2 linked regions of the Homo sapiens genome follow. The protein of the gene in region 1 interacts with the protein of each later gene in a biochemical or structural test. Each region holds a gene or a part of one and is shown in the gene's direction. Other genes may lie near its edges.

Region 1 (3,500 bases):
TCTCTTTTATCTTCAGCGTGCCTACAAATACAGTGTTATCACCGTCCATGTGTGCCATGATGGAAAAATGGTTGGGCATTTTTCCCGTGGGTGTCCCGGTAAAGTATTTGGACTCAATTCTGGTGTTTGATTAGTGCTTTTTAAAGTAACAGAATCGTCCCTATTTGAGAGGAATACCATAAATCTATTTGTAGTGACCTTTCCTTGAAATCACATTTTTTTTAGTTCGTTCTTTCACTAATGGAAATGGGGGAGAAGCTATGGGGGACAGTAGAAAGAATGGTAAAAGAAGCAGAGATGTGCTTGGTCTGTTTTTAACCGTTTGAGACCATTAATCATTTTCTCTGGGTTTAAGATGGAGGCTTAAAAGTGGCAGAAGTCTTGTAAGGGTTTAGCTGCTATTCAGTGCTGGTAGAATTCTCTTCCCTCCTAAGCCTGTGCACTTTTTAAAATGCACTTTTAAATAGGCTTAATTTGAAGAATGTGTCCATCTCTCTCTCTCTCTCTTTTTTTTTTTTAAAAGATGTACCCTTAAGTAAAAAACAGCTGATTGTCTGGCCCCCATAAGTAACAGTTATTCTGTTTTTTCTTTAAGACATCTTTCTTATTACCTTATCGCATTCATAAGGATTTGGGTTGCCGTATAGAAAAAAAGAAATTAAAGTTCTATGGGTTTCTAAAATATGTATGAGTAAATTTTAGGTGAGAATTTGCATCTTTGATTTAATTATACGTGAAGGTGATGACTTAGTTTCTGAAAGTCAAGAGGGTAGTCTTTACAAGCCAAAAAAGGCATGCTTCCATAAAATTATACTATTCTTAAAGGCCTTCACAGCTAGGGTCCTATATTAGATGCAATAGATGTAACACTGACATACATAGTCTCCTTAAAGTCTGGGATCCAATTTTATTGCTGAATTTACTTTTGAAACTAAATGTCAGGGTTTGGTAATGTTATTTTGGACAATAAGACATAGTTAGATTATAAAATGGCGTATACTCCCAGATTTATTGGGAAGGTGGGCAAAGATCCCCCAGTTTCCAAAAGTTATGATTATGGTCATCTAAGCCACAGGATCTGTTTTCTTATGTAGTTGAGAAGCTAACATAGTACTCCATTAAAAGTGGAGGTTGCCACACTGCGTGACCAAACACTGAGTTCAGCTGCCCTGTCTAGATATTCTGGATTACTACAGCAGCCTTCTAGCCTATGGTTGGAACCCATCTGATACTTTTCCCATTCTTGCTTAGAACAATGGTGATATTTCTCTGCTTAAAATCCTCTTGTGGCTCTTTTTTGCCCATTAATAAAATTCAAACTCCATTTATCCTTAATCTCATATACAAAACCTTCAAGATGTGCTCCTTACCTAACTCTCTTTTTTCCCCTTTATCTTTCATATTTTTCATTTTTTTTCTTACCTAACCCTTTAGCCTTATCTCTCTTCTTGGATGATCTTTTGTTCTACCAATACCCAGCTTCTGGAATGCTAGTGTTTGTTTACTCAGTCCTCCATTTCCTCTTCCTGGAATTCTAGCCTCTCTTCCTTCCCCTAATCTAGTATACTCCTACTGGTCCTTCAGAACTCAGTTTAGGTTATAATTCTCCAAAAAATTACAATTAGGTTCTCTCTCTGGATCCCATCCCTCAAAAAACAAAAAACAAAAAACCTTTAAGACTGGGCTGATTGCTTCTCTTATGTGCTGTCATAATATCTGTTACAGCTCTTAACTACACTGGAGAGAGTACTTTCATTAGCCTATTGTAAATTTTGTTGACAGCAGTCCACAGTAACCTCATAACTACACACACACACACACACACACACACACACACACACATTCTTTCTCTCTCTTAAAGGCCTTCTTCGTAGGCCTTTATCAGTCAAGTGCCCAAACTTTCTCAATTCATGGCACCCTTATTATCGCAGTAATTTTTTTCACAGCATCCCTAGGTCAAAAGAAACACCTAACAGTTTAATTTTTTTGTTTTTTGTTTTTTGAGACGGAGTCTCGCTCTTTCACCCGTGCTGGAGTGCAGTGGCGCGATTTCGGCTCACTGCCGCCTCCACCTCCCAGGTTCAAGCAATTCTCCTGCCTCAGCCTCCCGAGTAGCTGGGATTACAGGCACGCGGCACCATGCCTGGCTAATTTTTTGTATTTTTAGTAGAGACGGGGTTTCACCATGCTGGCCAGGCTGGTCTCGAACTCCTGACCTCGTGAGCCATGTGCCTCAGCCTCCCAAAGTGCTGGGATTACAGGCGTCAGCAACCATGCCTGGCCAGTTTAATTTATTAAGTAATTAGGTCTGAACAACTTAATAAGTATGTATCTCCTAACAAGTCAGTAGCTGTGTGAAAAGATAAAATACATAAACTAAAATCAGTAACTTTCATTCTTAACTGCTATCGTGTATGTACCATAGTTTTCTCGACTAATGTCCTGTTTGAACATTTAAGTAATATCTAATATTTTGCAATTACAAATGATGTTACAGTGAAAAACTTTGTGTACATGTATCTTTGTATTGTTGGAGAGATACATCTTCAGGATAAATGCATATGTAGAGTTGTTAGGTACTGTCAAACTCCTCATCCTGTGGGGTTATACTATTTTGCATTCCTACCAGCAGTGTATGAGAGTAGAGTGCTTATTTCCTCACAGCCTCACCAGCAGTGTTTTGTCAGCTTTTGAATTTGTGCTGATCTAATAGGTAAGAAATTGTATCTCAGTGTATTTTCCATTTGTACTTCTATTACAAGTGAATTGAACATGTTTTCATATGTTTAAGGGTCATTTTAATATTTATTTTTATTGTTCATATTATTTGCTCACTTTCTTTTCTTTTCTTTTTCCTTTTTGAGATGGAGTTTCGCTCTGTCGCCCAGGCTGGAGTGCAGTGGCACGATCTCTGCTCACTGCAACCTCTGCCTCCCAGGTTCAAGCGATTCTCCTGCCTCAGCCTCCTGAGTAGCTGGGATTACAGGTGCACGCCACCACGCCTAGCACGTTTTTGTATGTGTGTATGTATTTATTTATTTATTTTGAGATGGGGTCTCACTCTGCCAGGCTGGAGTACAGTGGCGCCATCTCAGCTCACTGCAACCTCTGCCTCCTAGGTTCAAGCGATTTTCCTGCCTCAGCCTCCCGAGTAGCTGGGACTACAGGCGCGTGCCACCACGCCTGGCTAATTTTTTGTACTTTTAGTAGAGATGGGGTTTCACCGTGTTAGCCAGGATGGTCTCGATCTCCTGACCTCGTGATCCACCTGCCTCGGCCTCCAAAAGTGTTGGGATTACAGGCATGAGCCACCGTGCCTGACCCTAATTTTGTATTTTTAGTAGAGATGGGGTTTCACCATGTTGGTCAGGCTGGTCTCAAACTCCTGACCTCGTGATCCGTCCACCTCAGCCTCCCCAAGTGCTAGGATTACAGGCGTGAGCCACCATGCCGAGCTTTCTTTTACTTTTTTTCTTTTTTTTGAGACAGAGTCTTGCTGG
Region 2 (3,500 bases), on another chromosome or scaffold:
GTGGACTGAATGATAACCTTTTCTTTCTTCATATAGGCTGATCAGCTGACCGAAGAACAGATTGCTGGTAAGTTGACAACTCCAAGGAGTCCCCAGAAGGCCAGAACTAGGCACTGACTCAGTTTTGGTGACTCCTCTGTTCCTCCCCGCTACAGTCTGGGCAGTTTTCTAAGAATTTATTTAAATAAGAACAGTAAGCAGAAACACTGAGGTCAGATGTTATTCTTGCCAGTACTTTATAGATGAGGTGAAAGGAAGTAAAACTAAGGATGCCCACATGTTAAACTCTGGAGAATTTGACCATGTTTCACAATGTGCAAAGTTTGCGTATGATTAATTGTACTGAGCCTGCTACTCAGCGGTTTAGTTTACAATTCTTATGCCATGGGTCTTTCAGTAATCTGCCACGAAAGCTTGTGCTCGCTATCCTAAAATAAATGGAAATGGGTGAATATGAGTGTTAGGACCACTGTAGTAATTGGGAAGAAAGTTACATTAGTTAAACTCTGTTGCCCAGGCTGGTCTCTAACTCCTGGGCTCAAGCAATCCTCCTGCCTCAGCCTCCTGAGTAGCTGGGACTACAGGCATGTGCCACCACGTCTGGCAGATTTTAGCTTTTTAATATTCCTGGAGGACTTGTTTTGAGACTGTTTCTCGTTAGGAAACCAGGAATGCTTCTGAAATATTCTAAAAGTCATGTGGAGAGAGTTTACCTGGGAATGTACATTTCTAGTAACCATTTTATTTGTTATGAAACAAGGGATTCTTATGGCTTTAGAAATGTAACAGGAAGGGATTTGAAGGGGGCACATGGACCAATCTTGTCAGATTGGATTTAGTCCCTTGAACCTGGGAGGCAGGGGTTGTAGTGAGCTGAGATTGCACCACTGCACTCCAATCTCGGTGACAGAGCGAGACTCCATTGTTTAAAAAAAAAAAAAAAGATTGGATTTAGGACTAATTTAAGCATGTTCCAGCTTAGCCGCCTTGAAACCTTTGGGAATATTGTGGTGTGTGGCACTGTTTATTGGGAGCAGTGTTTGCTTTATGGGCTGCTGTATGAAGGCCAGTCCAACAGGACTATTGTGGTCATTATTTCAGTAGATAAAGACCAGACTTCTGATACGTTGCACAACTTGAATGGCTGGCTTTGGCAAGCCCCCGGCAAGTGTGTATTGTGACTGGGTTGGATAAAGACATTGATTCTAACGGGTCAACTTTTGTTTTCAGAATTCAAGGAAGCCTTCTCCCTATTTGATAAAGATGGCGATGGCACCATCACAACAAAGGAACTTGGAACTGTCATGAGGTCACTGGGTCAGAACCCAACAGAAGCTGAATTGCAGGATATGATCAATGAAGTGGATGCTGATGGTAAGAGCTTTAAAACCATGAATGAGGGCCATTGTTGTGTAATTCAAGTTCAGACATGTTACAGGATTGTCTTTCAGGTCCCCAGAGCAAAGCAAATGTGCAAAGATCCTTTCTGTGGTTGCCCCAGGGCCATTGACAATTAAAATAGAAGATGATGGGCCTTGCGTCCATCCTGCTTAGTGTCTAGAATGTTTTCTGCATGGGATCACTATTGTTTTCTTCCTGCTTGGTGCGACCTAGAGCTCAAATCTATTTTTTTTTTTTTTTTTGGAGACGGAGTCTCGCCCTGTCGCCCAGGCTGGAGTGGCACTGGCGCGATCTCGGCTCACTGCAACCTCTGCCTCTTGGGTTCCAGCGATTCTCCTGCGTCAGCCTTCTGAGTAGCTGGAATTACAGGCGTGTGTCGCCACGCCCAGTTAGTGTTTTGTATCTTTAGTAGAGATGGGGTTTCACCATGTTGGCCAGGCTGGTCTCAAACTCCTGACCTCGTGATCCGCCCTCCCCGGCCTCCCAAAGTGCTGGGATTACAGGCGTGAACCACTGCTCCTGGCCGAGCTCAAAGCTTTTATCAACTGGCCCATGAGTCTGCACTGAGTCTTGAGGGGGGAGGTGAAATTAAATAGCCATAGAAAGTGCTTTTTAACAAACTTACTGTGTTTAAAGAGGAGGAGGAACCCCCAGATGAAGTAGGTGACGAGCACTCTTAGAAGTTACCATAAAAGTGAGTACAGTGTGAGCTGTAGATGTGTTTGCTGCAGAGGAGCATGTGAGGTTTGGAGGCGGATGTGTGGTGACTCCAGGGGATAGATTTGCAGAACCTAACGGAAAGGGAAGCTGTAAGGTGCAGGGCCAGAGGGAACCAGCAGTAACCCTGATAGCGGTCTGTCATCTGTTCCTCTCGACTCTACAGCAGCGGACAACAGAACTTTGATTGCTGATTTCCATCAGTAAGCAGGCTTTGAAGCACACTTCCCCACCCCTAAAAAAAAACCACGTATTTTGGTAAATCCTATATATATTCTAATGTACTGTATGACAGTATAGAACATGATTTTTAAAAGATGAGTTGGGAGGAGAAAAGGATAAAAGAAAAAATAAAAGAAGCATTAAGAATAAACAATTCGGATCTAGATTTTACTTTCTAGATGATTGACTCGAGGGTGGTGTAGTAAAATCGCTTGTCTGGTCACAAACATTTGGCAGCAGAGCTTTTGATTAGGTTCTTTGACAAAGCCTTCAGCACGTTAGAGTGGTTTTCACTAATAGTGTTTTGGAAAGAAAAGGTTGTCCATAGTTCTCTAGTTTGCTAAGATGATCAGCTACCCAGGAACGTGGAGTAACTTCCTCTTGTTTGTGGGAGCCCCGGGAATCTGTGCCTGGGGAGGGGAGAAGTCTGTTAGGCTCTTGGATTGTGTGGAAGAAGGAGAAGTTGTGCCAGGCTACAGAATCCTGTGTTTGCACTGAGAAAACAGGATGGTACCTGACCTTCTCTGCATGGCTGTGAGATAGCTTAAAATAATTTCTTTTGTTTTTGATGAATATGAACAATATCTTAAAATTTTTGAGGCTAAAAAAGTCTTGAAGGGATCCCTGAGGTATTTTCTTTGAAAGGTACTGGTGAAAATGAGTAACTTAACCTAAGGGTTTTTCTTTCTAATTTTATTTCCATTTAGTTCAATGACACTGTTAGTCTGGAGTGCTTGTCTTTGGGGGTATTCATCTCTTAGTTTTAAAGAGGAGTTGTTTGGAGTACTGGCCGTAGAACAGATTGTTCTGACAGTTCCCTAAGTGTTACTAGTCTGAGCTGTGAGAATGCTCCTGAGCTTTTCCCTTAATGGGAAATAAAGATACTGAGTTGGAAGAAAACAGGTGGCTAACCATCATAGCGTGGCCAAGAAATGATCCTGGAGAAGACTTGGTAAGACTTCATGGCCCATGCATGGCATAACAGAATCAATGTTCCTCTCTCATAATCTTTTCTCCTCTGAAACACTTTATACACTTAACCTGCAGCTCAGTTCTAGGCCTTTTTTGTGTTACTGCTGTCACTAACCAAGGCAGAGTGAGACCTGAGTGATTTCCCTAACTCAGGGATGGCAGTCGGGGGCGCTTTCTTCCCTCGGAGT

What was found. Proteins that work in one complex are often made in the same cells at the same time.
Region 2: the proteins of RALA (region 1) and CALM1 form a complex in vitro, tested with the Homo sapiens proteins (2 studies listed by BioGRID).

What each region holds. Positions count from the first base shown.
Region 1 is NC_000007.14:39,626,572-39,630,071, forward strand, and holds part of RALA (ras-related protein Ral-A precursor), read left to right. Parts: intron 1-3,500. UniProt on the Homo sapiens protein: Multifunctional GTPase involved in a variety of cellular processes including gene expression, cell migration, cell proliferation, oncogenic transformation and membrane trafficking.
Region 2 is NC_000014.9:90,400,029-90,403,528, forward strand, and holds part of CALM1 (calmodulin-1), read left to right. Parts: intron 1-36; coding exon 37-67; intron 68-1,230; coding exon 1,231-1,374; intron 1,375-3,500. UniProt on the Homo sapiens protein: Calmodulin acts as part of a calcium signal transduction pathway by mediating the control of a large number of enzymes, ion channels, aquaporins and other proteins through calcium-binding. Calcium-binding is required for the activation of calmodulin.